2 separate regions of the Homo sapiens genome follow, and region 1 is linked to region 2. The links come from fine-mapping of genetic effects on gene expression. Tissue or cell type: whole blood. Region 2 holds a variant in brackets; the other region holds the start of a gene. All regions are shown on one strand. Distances are from middle to middle.

Region 1 (8,101 bases), 150 kb after region 2:
AGCCCCCTGGGGGGAGTGCAGAAGAGGAACTCAAGAGATCTCTGGTGCATGCTAAATTTCAAGGGTACGGGGAAAACTGGGACGTCGGCTTAGAGGGGTAGGCACTTGGGGTTTGCTGTTTGTAAAAGTTCAGAGTATGCTTTTTGAGAAGAGAGTATATTTGCCCATGCCTGGGAGATGGGTATAGGAGGACCTTGTCTTCATTTCCTGGCTGGCTCTTAGGAGGTTTGTCCCCTTGCCCATAAGTATGTACATGTGGATAGGAGGCTGCTCACATGGCTTTTGAGGGTTCTCAAGTATGAATTAAAAAAAGAAGAAAAATGTGTGCTTTGAGTTAGATCTGAGAAAAAAAAAAAAAAGGCAGCAAGCTAAGCCATGCGTCTGGGACACTGGCTCGCCTCCAGGATTTCAGGAGAGTTGGGTTTCAGCATGCACAGAGAGAAAGTGCTCCATTTCTCAAACCTGGATTTCCTTGTCTGTTTTCCCCTATAGATACAAATCTGAGCCCTTGAATGGCCTTTTTGAGGGAGGAAGGCATGTATAGCATTGCTCAGATTGAGAAATAGTTCAGATCCAAATATTACTATAGGTTTGGCTCCTTCAAGAATTTCTTCCATTGCTTTGGACCAATAAATATTTAAAAAGTTAGGTTCTGAGCTCCAGAAAAGCCAACAAAAACATTTAAACATATGGATTTTTTTTTTAAATTGTGGTTAAACCATGTTCAGTGGAGATTAGTTTGCAGCAGTCTTTTCTTTCTCTCTTTGCCTCGCATTCCTGCTCCCCCCCCTCATCATTTTCTTTCTTTCTTTTAGGAAGCCAGAAGGGTAAACATGTTGCCATGGAGTTCTGTTTAAAATAAAATACAATGGAAAGAAAAGCAGCATGATGAAGTAACCACATGGACTGCAGGATACACCTGATACTAATTACTGTCATGCAGAATGTTCTGGAAGACATTTGACTCGCCTGATGTATACATTCAAATCAAGCAAAGTAGGACTGGAAGGCTCCTTAGGGACCATCTTGTCCAAGTCTTTCCTTTTTCCAGATGAGGAAGTAGGGGCCCACAGAGAGGGAGGGCCTGGACCTCAGCCTCCCAGCGCGGAGGGAGCAGAGCCGGGATTCAAACCCGTGGTGCTTTGTAGGAAACCCGTAATTTCCACGGTCTTTTTCCTTGGGCTGTCAGTAAGGCCCTGAAATAGGAGAGTGGGGTTTACTGTGAACCTCGAAGGAGCAGGCTCAAGAGCCAGGGGGCCCAGAATAGGGCAGAGGCTGGCTTCTCACTGGGAGGCTCAACTTCCCGCAGGGGCGCCAGGCCCTGACAGGAGAGACTGGACATTAGGTGTCTGGAAGTTTCTCCTTCTAGGGGCTCCAGGAGCATCCCACCTGAGGCCTGGGGCTCCCACCGGAACGTCAACTCATGCCCTTGTGGGGCTGCAGGGCTGACGCGGGCTGGCACTGTGTCTACGACAGCCTCCCGGGCCCCCGGGTGCGTGGCTGCGGATGCTCTCTGGCGGCCACCACAGTTCCCACGCGCGGCGGGTGAATGCGAGCCCCTTGTCAATGCGTGCCCCTCGCCTCTGCCCCCGAGAGGCTAGCAACCGGGCCTGCCGGCGTCTGATTGGCCGTGGGGGCCTGACGACAGGGGCTCCTGGTTGCTGATTGGCCCCGGCCAGCTCTGGCTGTTTCCTAGCTATTAATACTGTGGCTAATAAACGTTCTCCTGTTGACGCGGGTGCTCGGAGCCATGATTTTTTGAAGCGTTCTTGACGTCTGTGGCTGGTGCGGGCGTTTCTGCTGTGCAAGGCCTGCTTCCGGGGCTCTAGTCCCTGGGGCTCCTGGCAAGCTCCACAGGCTGTAAAGGGGGTGTTTTCTTTCTCCTTCGTGTTACCTGACATATTAAAGCAGCGCCCCATGAGGACCCCAACGTCCCACGTCTCTATCTCCCCAACAGTGCGCCTGTTTATGAAAAAACGAGCCCCCCACACGCCGTCCCAAGGCTCGGCGCCTCTAGTGACCTGACGGTCAATGTTCACCTCCCTAGTCATTAGCTGTGGACGTAGAAATAGCCTTTCTCCCTTCTTTTCAGCCCTGGAATCTCCCGTCTGCTTTACAGTCACCTTGTGGGATCGTTGGGCATGGGGGGCTCCCTCTGACGCCGCTTAAACCCCCCAAAGAAGTGCGGGGGAGCGATTCTGACTTGATGCCCTCGGCGGGGCCTCTCTGCTGTCCTCTTTGGGGCCCCTTGCTCATCCTCACCTGCTTTCTGTCACCGAGCACTCCATCCTTGTCCTCCTGGCTGCCACCCACCTGTCACCCTAAGATAGATCCTCGGTCCCTTTCAACAGCATTTTGACCTTTGCGAGAGGACATTTGATTGACGGCCCTGCACGCTCTGCCACTCAGAGCCGGGCAGAGCTGCCGAGGGCTCCCACCTGTTAGGGATTAACTCCCATGTGCCAGCTCCGGAGCCGAGGCCGCGGCAGGGCTCGGCGCAACATGTGTCGCTGCCTGTTTTTCGGGGCGCTGGGGCTCTTTCAAAGGGCATGTGTGTGGGGATCACCCCAACTTTGAGGGGTAGCTCAGGCATCTCCACATGGGACACAGTCCGCCCTCTAAAAGTACTTTCCTTAGAGGGCACGGCTCCTGTCTGGATTCTTATTACAACCCTGGTGTGTGTGGTGGGGGGTACCCCTGGTTAAGGTGGAGGAAGCGGACCCAGTGGAAGAGGAAGGGGCATAGCGGGTTCCGCGAACATGAGTTGTAAGCGGCAGAGCCCGGGACTCCACAGCCAGGGTTTTCTGACTCGGAGACGCGGAGCTCTGTCTCCCATGTCAAAGAGAACCAGTCAGAAACGCACGGGTGGGCTGGGAGGGGGTGACAGCCTCTGGCTTACATCTGGGAACCAGTTATGTCGCCCGGGCATTTTATTTTCCTGAACAATAAGAGAAAGCATGATTTTCTTTCGCTAAGCCCGCATCCTCCGATGGATGTTCCGAAACCGCCAGGTGTGGGATCTGCGCCCCGACAGCCCCACCTTGGCCATCGGCCGCCTGAGGACGGCCAGCCATCGGGGCGATTCCCCCCACACATTGTGCCTGAATTCACCCTGCCTGGCGAGCCGGGCTCACGCAGGGAAAAAGCACCCGCGACCACAGGGTGTTGGTCATGGCGGCCAGGGGCACTGCGGCAGAATTTTTTCCTCCCTTCTTTGCTGCAATCTGGGTGCGGCTAGAGCAATTTGTCATAGAATCTGGGGGGCTCATTTTTCCGGCCAATCACTTTTAGAGAAATGAGCGCATTGCAGCAGAATGCGCTGACGTCAGAGACCACCCCTTCTGCGCCTCCATATAAACCCCACCCAGCCAGCCCCTAGCGCAGACGGCGGAGAGCAGAGAGGGAGCGCGCCTTGGCTCGCTGGCCTTGGCGGCGGCTCCTCAGGAGAGCTGGGGCGCCCACGAGAGGATCCCTCACCCGGTGAGTGGTTGGCCATCCTTGCCGCAAAGGATGTGCAAAAGGAAGACGGCATCCGCTTCTGGGATGGGCTCTGTCCTCCTGGACATGCCGAGAGCCTGCCTGATCCTGGGTCCTGCTGCTGGAGGCGGCCACTTCGCCTGGTCCCCGAGCGTCCGCAACAAAATTTGTCAGAAAGAAAATCTTGAGGCACATTTCCCTGGGGGGAAGTCAGGGCTCCTCTCTGGAGGGTCCAGTCCTTAAGGGTGGGCTGGGTGGTAGGGACTTCAGTTCAGAGGAGCGGGAGGAATCAGATGGAACTCCTCTTGGATTCGGGTATACGGCAGTCACTGGGGGGCGAACCCCGGATTTCCTGTATTAGAAGCCGCCTCTAGAATCGCGTTAATAGTGGGAGATATGGCGGCGATGCCTTCTGCGTGCCCCATGAATTAGGGGGGGAAGCACCCGAATAGAAGGGTCTCCCGGGCATATTTGCCTCGCCAGCTGTTGGCCAGGTTTTTGGTGGATCGTGGGCGGGAGGAGTGGAGGTTCCTCTTCGCGAGGTTTTCCGAATCCAAATACACAGGTTTAGTGCAGTGTGGACCCCAGGCAAAATGTGGAGTAAAATTTCTACCCGATATCATCTGGTTCTGCCCTGATCAGCCACTTTCACAGTGGAGAGAGATGGCGCCCAAGTGCAAACCTGCCAGTAGCCCCCTAGGATCAGTCCTTGCCGAAGGGGGGTCGTGGGATTGGGGGCACTGGGAGAATAGATGCAGGGGGTGGGTTGGGGAGGAGAGAAGGCCGTGTCCTTGGGTCTGGGAAGAGGGAGGAGAGAAATGCAGAAAAGGGGGTGTGTTGCTGGGGTCTGGACGCTGGGAGCTGGGGATGGGGTGCCGCGGGGGTCTTCAGAGCGTTGCGTGGTGGTCGCTCGAAAATCCTGACATGTTGCAGTCTTGGACTTTTGGTCAAATCGCCTTTTGCCATTTCCTTTGTCAGAGTCAAGCCCCCCCAGGCCGCCCCCTCCCACCCTGGGCCGGCGGGCCTGGTGGGGGCGCAGGCGGGTGGCTACGTGGCAGGTTTCTGGAAGGTTTCCTGGCTGGCCGCGAGAGGGCGCTGGCGGCACTGCGGAATTTTGGGGGGCGGGGTGGGGAGGGGAGGTGGCCTTTGTTCTCCTGATGGAGGGGGTCGGGCGCGGGATCTACTGGAGGATCCTGGATTCGTTTACCCAAGAGGGAACAGTTTTGAGACCCCCCGGATTCACTGCGGAGTGGCCGCAGAGGCCGGGGTCGGCCTTTGCGCCGTGGCTTCGGGTGTTGTGGAGGCGCACAGAGGCACGTTAGTTGATTTCCAGTGGTTTTTGGTTTCGGGGGTCTTAGGAAGGTGTGGCTCATTTGAGCAGGATGGAGAGAGAGGCTGTGACAAGGTCAGTGAGGGGCCATCGTGCGGGGGCTAGAAATTGTTGTTGTGGCGAAGGAGGGAGGCACGACTTTGGAGGCGTGATGTTGATGCCTGGGGGCGAAGGCGGGGAGCGGCGTGGTGGCCCCCTTTGCGTTACTTTCCAGCGATGTCACAGGTTCTGTCTCTCGTTCCGAGACCACCCACATGCGTGACAGCGGTGCCTGGAGGACTGGGTCTTTCTGACTTTAGTGAACGTGTGTTTAATTGGATTGACGAAGGTGGGAGTCGGGATTTCTGCTTTTCCCTGTAGCAGGCGGAGCGGCGCTCCAGAGGGGCCTGGCGCAGGTCCGCTGGGTGGCCCACCTTCCTCTGGGGCTGGGGCCCGGTGGCTGGGGGCGCAGGAGGCGCCTGGTGCGGGCGGGAGGCGCTGCGCCGCAGCCACAGGTGGGCTCTGGCTGGTGGTGGCTGGAGAGGCGTCCAGGGGGCGTAGCGACCTGGCGCGGTGGCCTGGGGTGGGCTGTGGAGCCCTTCCTAGCCTGAGACCTGTTGGGCACCCCCTGTCCATCCAGGCCCGCCGGGCGCGGGCCGGGGCGCCGCAGGTGGCTGCTGCACTCCTGGGTTACGGGTGCGGGCCGCGCGCCCCCTAGCGGTGTGTGCCAGCCCCGCTACCTTGGGTTTTGAGTTGCGCACACGCACACAGCTAACACTTGTGACCTGTCAGTCAAATCATCCTTACCCCCTCCCACTCCTCTCCTCCACCTCCCATTTCTCCTCTCCCTCCACCCTTTCTCATTTCCTCGTCCCTCCTCCCCCTCCTATTTTTCTTCTCCCTCCTCCCTCTTTCCTCTTCCCTCCTCCCTCTTCCCCCCTCATTTTCCTCATCTCTCTTTTCCCCTCCCCTTCTCTCCTCCCCTCTCCCTGCCCCCCTCCTTCCTCCCTCCATACCCCTCCCTCTTCCCTCCCAGCCCCTCCCTACTGCCTTCCTCAGTCCTCCCCTTTGCCACTCCTCCCTGCCTTTCCCTCTGCCTGCCCCCTTTTGCTCTCTGCTGTTCCGGTGCTGGCCGTTAGAGGTCACGAAGATGGTTTCTAACCTGCCCCCCTCCCATGCCATAGGGTCTCTCCTCAGGGATGACATCATCCGTCCACCTCCTTGTCTTCAAGGACCACCTCCTCTCCATGCTGAGCTGCTGCCAAGGGGCCTGCTGCCCATCTACACCTCACGGTACTTCAACCCTCCTGCTATCATTTCATAACCAACGTGGCGGGCAGAATCTCCCAACCCCACCACCATCCTTGCACCACCCCCAGACCCACTAGCAATTAAAAGACAATTTTAAATTTTAACTAATCAGCTTTAATTGTAATTAATGAACTTAAACTGTAATTATGATCTAGGCTTGGGCTTTTAAGCAGGTTCTCTAACCTTTGATCAATTGCAGAGGGCACTAGGAGCACGGTTTCCTGGATCCCACCAACATACAAAGCAGCCACTCACTGACCCCCAGGACCAGGATGGCAAAGGATGAAGAGGACCGGAACTGACCAGCCAGCTGTCCCTCTTACCTAAAGACTTAAACCAATGCCCTAGTGAGGGGGCATTGGGCATTAAGCCCTGACCTTTGCTATGCTCATACTTTGACTCTATGAGTACTTTCCTATAAGTCTTTGCTTGTGTTCACCTGCTAGCAAACTGGAGTGTTTCCCTCCCCAAGGGGGTGTCAGTCTTTGTCGACTGACTCTGTCATCACCCTTATGATGTCCTGAATGGAAGGATCCCTTTGGGAAATTCTCAGGAGGGGGACCTGGGCCAAGGGCTTGGCCAGCATCCTGCTGGCAACTCCAAGGCCCTGGGTGGGCTTCTGGAATGAGCATGCTACTGAATCACCAAAGGCACGCCCGACCTCTCTGAAGATCTTCCTATCCTTTTCTGGGGGAATGGGGTCGATGAGAGCAACCTCCTAGGGTTGTTGTGAGAATTAAATGAGATAAAAGAGGCCTCAGGCAGGATCTGGCATAGAGGAGGTGATCAGCAAATGTTTGTTGAAAAGGTTTGACAGGTCAGTCCCTTCCCACCCCTCTTGCTTGTCTTACTTGTCTTATTTATTCTCCAACAGCACTCCAGGCAGCCCTTGTCCACGGGCTCTCCTTGCATCAGGTAGGGGCTTTGCAGAGACCATCGACGGGCTGACTTGAGTAAGAACACGAATTATGCATGTGGCCATTTCCAGAGCACTTTCTATGTGATATGAACATGTGATTTTTATGTAATATGTGTATGTAAACGAGGCAGCCTCATTTCCAGGTGAGGATGCATTTGGTAGTGTTGATTTTTGTAATTTAAAGAAGCTGAAAGGGAGAGAGGACCCGTGAGGACTGAACTCTCTGTCCCATGGGGTAGGGCTTACATTTACATTAAAGAAACAGAAACTTGCTGGGAGGTGTAAGTATTTGGTCACATTGCTGGCAACAGAAGGGGTTGGAGTTGGACCCAGGGTGCCACGCTAGCTGCCCTCACCCCTTCTTCCCCTCTGGCCCAGAGTTATACTAAGAGTCCTTTTATTTCAAACCAAATGTTTGACAATGGGACAGTCTGTTTGAAATCCCAGCTGCCTGGGGTGGTCTTGGGGGTCTGGGTGGCCCCAGTGCTGGTACCATGTGCTGGCTTCACCTTTTAATAACAGTGTGACCTTAAACAAGTCGCTTAACTACTCTAAGTTTCAGTTTCTTTCATGGTCTAAATGGAGATTAAAACACACACACACACACACACACACACACACACACACACACCCCCTCGTGTATCTACCCCACAGGGCGCTTTTGAAGACCAAATGCTGTAACTACTATGAAAGTGCTTTGTAAATTGCTGTGGAAAGTGTGAGCTACTCAAGCACCCGAGGCTGTCCCTCCTTGCTCACATGTCCAGCCCAATTCTCCCTTAGTGAGAACAGCACTCAGTAGGTGCTGTGTGTGTTTGTGTTCAATTAAGAAATTCCAGAATAAATAAAAATGAATTAATTCAACAAACATTTTCTGGGGCACCGACAATCTGCCCAGTGCACCAGGCTAGGTATCTGATACAAAGATAATGAAAACAGTCTCTTGGAACCTAATTGGGGTCCTCATTTGACCAGGAATTTCTTTCGTCCCGTTTTAAGCCAACCAGTTTTGTCCGGACAAGACAAAAACAACTTGGGCTGCTTTAGAGAAGCCCAGCTCAGTGTAGACAATAGCTGCCCAGCCT
Region 2 (8,101 bases):
ATCCGGGCTGCTGGGAGGAAGATGCTGCAGCCCCTAACCACCGTAATTATGAAGTCTTGTTGGGGAGAGATGCTTATCTTTAATGTTAAGTGAACAGAGCAGGAGACCAAACGTCCTGCCTGCGTGTGTGCGTCCATGTGCAGAAACGTCTGCCTGGAAACAGGGCTGCCTGAGACCCTGTCACTTTCAAAGTGGGGATGGAGAAATGAGCTGGGGGCACTTCTTACCATTAAAACTGCAATTAATGATATTGATACCTTATTCTTTTATTTTAAAATGTTATCTTTTCTCTTTACCTTAAAAGGAATCAGTTCACTGTGAAATAGGTGGGAAATACATGAACACAAAGAAGGAAATTGAGACCCCATAAGGCCCTGCCACAGGCCAATGACCAGGGTGGGGGTTTTTGTTATGGGTTTTGCCCCATGGCTAGGTGCATGCACGTTTTGTTGTTTTTACATAGTGGAGATGATTCACTGTATTTTTAATATGTATTTTTAAGTAAGTGACTAGTCCCAGGGGTGGGGCTGAACTGAGAATGCACATTCTGTTAATTTAACCAGTAAATCCGATTTTCAAATTCCCCTTACAGGGAGAGAAAGGAGAATATTTTGCTCACTTTCAATCGTTATCGACTCATCCCCCCAAAGCCGGCAATATCGACCCTGCCTTCCAACACACTTCTGGAGCTTGCCCGGCACACGGGGTTGATGCCGGGCGCTCCAAGGGGGCTGGAGCCCTCACCCCGGCTCACACTGGCCTGAGATGAAGAGGCAGCTACAAAGTGCTGAGGCTCAGGTGGTGTCCCTGGAGGAGGCCTCTCTGTGGTTCTCTGTGACTTAGAAAGTCAGAACTAAGGTTGGAGAAGCTCTGTCCTGGAAAGGCATTCTGGGTGGGGGAATGGCCTAAACAAAGGTGGGGAGGCAGGAACGCAGATGAGGAGGCAGGCGGCCCGCAGTTCAGCTGGCTGGGAACGCAGCCAGCTTTTCTTTGGGTGTAGTCTTTTGCGCCCGGGTCATTCTGAAGAGTGACTTGGACTCTGAAGAGGCTCCCTGGTTACTCCCCACTTTTCCTCAAAGCTCCAGCGCTGCTTCCTCTGGGAAGCCTTCCATGGTTTCTCTGACGGAGACACTCCCCTACTCCAGGCCTGCAGCACTCACCTGCATCTCACACTGCGATGCAAAATTTGTGTGATTAATGGGTTCAAATGTGCCCCCCTCCCCTGGACTTTACAGGGTGCTGGAGCTGCTGGCTTGCTGTTCCCAGTGCCAAGTCCCATATGGGTGCTCAGCCATATGGAAGGAAGGTGCTCACAGTCCCCACAATCTATCAACCCACCCTGCGGGTGGAGGTACCGTGACTGTGGCCCCCACACCCCGCCCCTCAAGCTCCTGCCTGGCTGGAGCGCCCGCCTGGACCTGCCTGGCCTCTCAGCTACTTTGTTGTGAGGTTCTAGGCATGGAGATGAGTTTCTAGTGACTCTGGCTTGTTTTCTTCCCTTTTTTCCTGGTGATCTTTCTGTGTAATTAAAAGACAGCTATTTGGCTGGGTGCGGTGGCTCATGCCTGTAATCCCAGCACTTTGGGAGGCTGAGGCGGGTGGATCACCTGAGGTCGGGAGTCGGAGACCAGCCTGACTAACATGGAGAAACCCTGTCTCTACTAAAAATACAAAAGTAGCTGGGCATGGGGGCAGGTGCCTGTAATCCCAGCTACTCGGGAGGCTGAGGCAGGAGAATCGCTTGAACCCAGGAGGTGGAGGTTGAGGTAAGCCAAGATCGCGCCACTGCACTTCAGCCTGGGCAACAAGAGTGAAACTCCCTCTTAAAAAAAAAAAAAAGAGCTATTCTAGGAGACGAGGCAGCTGGAAGCAGAAACGCTGCTCTCTGCTTATGTGTGTGGAAATTTATTGTCTAGAGTACAGAATTCCGCTCGAGGCTCCAGTGTCAAAACAGACGCTAGGGTGAAGACCCAGCCCAGCCTCCCTCCTCAAGCCTGCTCTGCGCCCACCCTTATCCACATGGTGGCTTCCTGGAGCTCTTGCCGCCCCACTGGGTGAGGTGACAGCCTCCATTTCTTGAGGAGCACTAACTCTGCCAGTCTGATGACATCCACAGAACCTGTGAGCCTCACGCCAGGGGGCAACCCAGGCTGACAGCTGTGGTGTCCACCTGGAACCTGCCCCGGAGGGCTTGGAAGTTGTGAAGCCCATACTCCTTCCACCGGGCATGCTGCTGGTGCTGGGTGCCCCGGGGAGCGCAGCAGCACAGCTCCCACCTCCCTGACACAGAAGCCCAAGCCTGTGCTTCTGCCTGGCCTGGCCGTTTGAGAGGCCCCTTCCTTCCCCCAGAACCGGAAACTCCAGGCAATGTCAAGGTCATGCCTAGCCTGGAGGAAGTGCCTGTAAGCGGCCCAGCCCAGAGCACGGCGGGTGCAGCCCCCAGTGGAGACAGCGGGGTCCAACTTCCAGTACCCACTCATTGGCCGCATGCCTCTAGCACAAAGCTGTCTTTCACCCCACTCTGGTCTACAGAATCCTGGGAAATATATTTTCTGGTTGGAAATCCTTTGTTAGTTGGGCCTTCATGGTACTGGCATCTGTGAGCCCCTTTCGGCACCTCTGGGAATGGCCCCCCGCAAACTCGCTGGGTCCCAGGGTGGAGGGTTAGGAGGCCTGGCTGGCCTCGGAGCCTCTGCCTGGCCAGGCCTCCGCCCCTTGGCTCGCCACAGCCCGCAGCTGCTGAGGATAATGCATGCGCTGGCCCGGGCCCAGCTCCCCTAAGCCATGGAGAATTGCAGTTTAGCAAGTTCGTCAAATCCGCCTGAGGCAGGAGCCCAGAGCCACATCTGCAGCATCCAGGCATCCCAGCGGCTTCCTTATCACGTCCGCCTCCACCCAGGGCCTCTTCCCACAGGCCTGGATTAGGCCCCCGGCAGCTGGGCAGGGGTGGGGGCCAGGGGAGCAGGGGACGCTGAGCTGGGGGCCCAGGGCCCCAGCCAGAGAGGCCCCGGTCTGCTCCGCCCTAACTTCCTTGTGTGGCCCTGAGGAGGGAGATGCAGCCTTCTGGGTGGATGGATCCTCCTGCCCATCCATGGGGTCCTGGAGGTGGCAGCCACAGCTGGGCAAACCCATACCCCCAGGCCAGGAAACAGCGGCTGGGCAAGGCTCATGCCGAGGGACCCAGGGGTGGCTTGAAGGGTGCTGGGAGAGCTCGGGCTCCTCGGGAAGGGGGGTGGGTAGAGGGAGCATGGACAGTGGGCCCTGTGCCAGCAAAGCACAGCATCTGGAGGAGGGTGGAGGCAGGAATGCTGTGGGGAGGTGGCCGGCAAGGTCTTAAGAGCCACGCTATGTT[G/A]GTGACGCTGGGTCTGGTGAGCTGCTGGGCTGGAGCAGGAAAGCCAGGAGGGATCTGAGGCCTGGACAGGGGGCAAGAAGTCCCCTCCCCTGCATTCTCAGCCTGGAGCCCAAAGATGTGGCATTCAGAGGCACCTGTTTGGACCATCAAAGCATCTGTGAGGTCTACCAGGCACTTCCATGGCTGGGAAACATCAGTGGCCCCTTCCCCAAGAGGAACACTACAGGCTTCATGAACCACGGGGCCGAAGGGCCCAACCACTCCCTTTAGCCCCTCAGGGTAAGCCCAGCCAGGCTGCTGGGGCATCCACAAGGTCCCAGATGCCACCCAGAGACTTGCTTACCTCCGGGACTAGAGAGCTCACTACCTCATTGAACGTGCATTCCTTTGTGGAGGAGGTCTCATAGCTAGGAAAGGGCTTTCTAGTACTGCTCCGGGGCCACAGCGCATCTGGAGGTGGCAGTCATGACCTTCTGGGCCTCTTTCCTCCAAACCAAGTCTCAGGGCTTCTCCTATCTGTTCCTTGCAAGACCCACCGCAGTGCCCTCTCCTGAACAGGCATCAGTTGTCATTTTCTCCCAGAACTGAGTGTTAGTGCCTAGGTACAGTCTGCAGCCGACTCTCACCTCCCCAGCTATGAATACCATGCTCCTGTTAATTAAGCCCTAGGCGATCTGTGTTTTTTTTTGTTGTTTTTTTTTCTGATTGATCCATCACCCCATTGAGTCTTGCAGGGTGGTGTTGGTCCTTCTGGTGGTAATTGTGAATGAAGCAGGGGGACGACACATCCAGCTTGGGGAAACTGAGGCCCAGAGGGACAAGGCCTGGATCAAAGTTACACAGTTCATGGATGGCAGGGCTCAGGGAAGAGCCCTCCTGACCTCTGCCAGCAGCCTGCCCAGCCAGCACACGGTTCCTCCATCTAGGCCGAAAGATGGGCCTATGTCCATTCTCCCTCCTCCCTCCACCCTTCCCGAGGCCCTCTCAACCCTCAGCCAAGCCAGGGAAGGTAGAACGTGAGCGCCCCGTGGGTCCTCAGATGGTCTTGATTACCGACAGAAGGAGAAAGGCCTTTGCCCTGTGTCCTGCTAACTGTTCCAGGGAATCCAGTGCATCCAGAGGCCTGGGGGCCAAGGTCTCACACAGCTGACCGCGTCCAGCACGTTCTGCAGACTCCGGGTGTTTCCAGAGATCGCTGGGCCTGCACATTCCTTCCTGCTGAGGGAACTCCCCAGCAAGGCAGAGGAGGCGGCCAGCTCCAGGAGGGCCTTGTGGTGGGAAAGGAAAGAGCTTGTGTCCACAGGCGGCTAATGTGCACCAGGTGCTGACGAGTGTCTCTCTTGTGACATGAGAAAGTGGGCGCCACACTCTTCTTCTCTTGCAGAGGAGAATGTGACTTAGAGAGGAGATGATAATGGTGGTCCCCTTCCAGGCTGTTGACAACTGACTTGGTTCATGTGAGAGCTCAGCTCAGAGCCTGGGACCAGTGGGTGTTTACCAGGAATTCTACTGCTGTTGTCCCAAGCCACATGGCTAGGTGGCTGCAGACCAGGGATTTGAACCCGTGTCCAGGAGACAACCCAGGGTGGCTCCTTTGTGGTAAAGGCCACGCTGTTTGGGGATGGTCCTCCCTTCCTGCACTGCCACCAGCCTGATCTCCAACCCAGAGGCTCCCAAGTGGTCACAACCCTGGTTCGAGTGTCCTGAGGACCGGTGGGTGCGAGGCGACAGCCCCTCCCTCCAGTACCGGCTGAGAACGCCTGGCTGTGGGAAGCCGAGGATGACCACCCCTGAACTGGGGTCCCCTTCCCTCCGCCTCCCCCCATTGTCACAGGCCACGTGGGTGTCCTGCGGGCAGGGTTCTGCCACCACCACAGAGGGCTGGCCGGCAGCCCGCAAGTTTCCACCAACTAATAAGTTTTACAAACCTCCAGCCTCATAAAAAAGCTCACAGTGGCCTGAACAACCATGGCCAAGAGTCTTGTGGGAAAGCGGATGGCCTTGAGGCCAGGCAAAGGCGATCTCGGCCAGAGGCCACTTCCTGCCTCTACTCAGACCTTTCCTAAGGCTTCAGACGTGACCATGCCCCTGTGGCCCCCTGGATAAAGACTATGCTCCTCCCTCGAGGGACCGGAAGAGGCCCTCAGCCCCAGCTACCGTGCCCCAGCAGCCCCACGCCCTCCTGCTGCCAGTGAGCTGTCTCTGCACTCCTGCTGCTGAGCGCAGGCCTTTGCGTGGGCCTGAATGCCCTTCCTGTCCCACCATTAGGGACACAGAGATAACTGACACTTCTGTATCCCAGAGGGCCCCCGGGGGACACGGCATGTGATTGGACAGTGATATCACAGGCTCTGACTGGGACCTGAGAGGGAGCAACACGGAGTCCGCATCTGGCTTCTCGTCCGAACGTGGGCCAGGGTAGCAAGGGGGCACCCCGGCTGCAGGAAACAGCAGGCTCCAGGCAGAAGGGTCCATGATGCAAACACGTCCCTGAGCAGCCCGCTGGGGACCGGAGGGGCTGATGTGGAGAGTGCCTGGAGCAGAAGCGAGGGGGCATGGGTGGGGCAGTGGGCTGAAGGAGTGCGTGGGTTGTGGCAGAATTTTCAAGAAGGTGGGAGATGGGGGACACACACGTGGAGGCTGATGCTTTCAGGAGAGAGGGACGTTGGGTTTGTGATTCTGGGGTGGGCCTCTGGGTATGAGCTGGGATTTGGGCACGTAAGAGCCTTGGGCACATGGGGTCTTCAGTGGTAGGAGGATGAGGCCACCAGTAGCATGGCAGGAGGGGAGGGCATGGAGCCAGGACTGGCCCTCAGAGTGGCAGCTTTAGGAGGCAAGGGCAAGAGCCAGGCCTTTGGAGAAAGTCTGGGAAGGGGTCTTCAAAGAGGAGGGGGACTCGGGTCCCAAAGCCACAGGAAGAGGTGTTTCAGCAGGAGGGACCAGTCGGCTGCCTGGGGTGGCCACGACAGGAGCCGGGAGGGGTGTCATCGGCCTGGTAACCTGGGTCCTTGGCATCCTTGGGAGTGGGGGTAGAAGCTGGCGGGGGGCAGTGGCACTGGGTGTGAGCAGCTATGAGAAGATGGGGAGGACAGGCTGAGCTGAGGGGAGGGTGGGCGGGGATCTGCCTCCTGCCCCGTAACCCTGATGCTCACAGGGGCACTCCAAGGAGAGAAGGTTCACTCCGTCCCCTGCCAGGGATTGTCTGTGGGGGGCTCCGGGGGCTCTGCAGGACTTTGATGGACTCCTGGGGAGGCAGCTGTGGTTGTGGAGGGGACGCTGCTGCCCCCCGGAGCTGAGTTCATTCCCCATACCCTGCTCATCATGGTGCAAGCTGTCTGGGCCTCGGCTTGCTCATCTGCACTGTGAAAGCGCCAATGGGAACGTGCCGTGTGCTCCGGGTTGTGGAGAGGACTGGACGCCAAAGGTCCCCACAGGCAGGTTTTTCTGTCCCCGAAGTAGGTGGCCAGAGTCTCATAGCTTCTGATGGAGACTTAGCACTCAGTCTGGACGAGCCTTGGGGAGTTGAAGTATGGGCCTGCCCCTTGGCAGACTCAGAGCTGGCCCTTCTGTAAGTGTGCATTCAATCACATGAAAAGTGCCCAGGTCTGAGGAATCATCTGTTACCCAAGTCTCTTGGCAGCTGTCTCTGCTCAACGTGCTGGAGGGGCTGGGAACCACAGAGGGGCTGGCAGGGGCGGGCCAGCCTCCAGTAGGACCACGGCTTTGGTTTTCCATCTGTAAGTGGGGCTGTGGCTACGTGAAAGTGAGCCTGGAGGCCCGCGCCCCCTGAATCCTGATGAAAGGGTCTTCTGCTGCCTGACTATGGGAAGGAGGGGCCATATGGACCTGGAGCATGTTGACGCTGCCAGGGTCTTCCAACTGGACACAGAGGCCAGTCTCTCCCTTTGCAAGGGTCTTCCTTCAGCTGGCCTCAAAGAGAGGCTTCCAGGACCAGAGGGAAGGAACAGGGAGAGCCAGAGCCCACCTCCTCCTAACTCTGCCCACATTGCCCATGGCAGCTCCGTTTCTCCTCTGGAAGCCTCTCCCAAGGGTTGAAGAGAAGCTGGACCCTCCCAACTCCACACACACTCTGAAGATATGCTTCCTATCTGTGCACACATGATCATAGCAGCATCACACACAGTAGCCAGAAGGTGGACACAGCTGAGTGGCCACTGAAGGGTGGATGGAGAAACAAAATGTGGTCAGTCCACACGATGGAATACTATTCAGCCCTGAAAAGGAAGGAAATGCTGGCCCAGGCTACAACATGGGTGAACTTGAGGACATTATGTTGGGTGAAATAAGCCTGTCACAAAAAGTTAAATATGATTCCCTTTATGTGAAGGAGTCAAAATCATAGAGACAGAAAGTAGGATGGAGGCTGCCAGGGCTGGGGGACAGGGAATAGGGAGTTAGTGTTTAATCTTTTGGGGTTTCAGTTTTGCAGGACGAAAGTTGTTCTGGAGACAGACAGTGGTGATGATTGCACACCAGTGGAAATGTACTTAATACCACTGAAATGTACACTTAAAAATGGTGAAGATGGTAAAGATTCTTTTACTACAATTAAAAAATCAAGATTTAGGCTGGGTGCGGTGGTTCACGCCTGTAATCCCAGCACTTTGGGAGGCCGAGGCGGGCGGATCACCTGAGGTCGGGAGTTCGAGACCAGCCTGACCAACATGGTGAAACCCCACCCCTGCTAAAAATACAAAATTAGCCGGGCGTGGTGGTACATGCCTGTAA

The links. PIP is the estimated chance that this variant, and not a neighbour inherited with it, causes the effect.
Region 1: MEG3 starts here. The variant in region 2 is fine-mapped to the expression of MEG3 in whole blood (TOPMed, PIP above 0.99).

Annotation. Positions count from the first base shown.
Region 1 is chr14:100,822,738-100,830,838 of GRCh38, forward strand. MEG3 (maternally expressed 3) reads left to right here and starts at 3,381. Exons shown (of 10, transcript NR_190993.1): 1 at 3,381-3,480; 2 at 5,971-6,079; 3 at 6,297-7,012. RefSeq lists enhancers at 981-1,681, 7,916-8,101.
Region 2 is chr14:100,675,377-100,683,477 of GRCh38, forward strand. No RefSeq gene overlaps it. Among named protein-coding and RNA genes, the nearest start is that of LINC00523, 22 kb to the left of the region's middle. RefSeq lists enhancers at 3,960-4,553, 5,148-5,741. The variant G/A (reference allele first, on the strand shown) is at 3,353.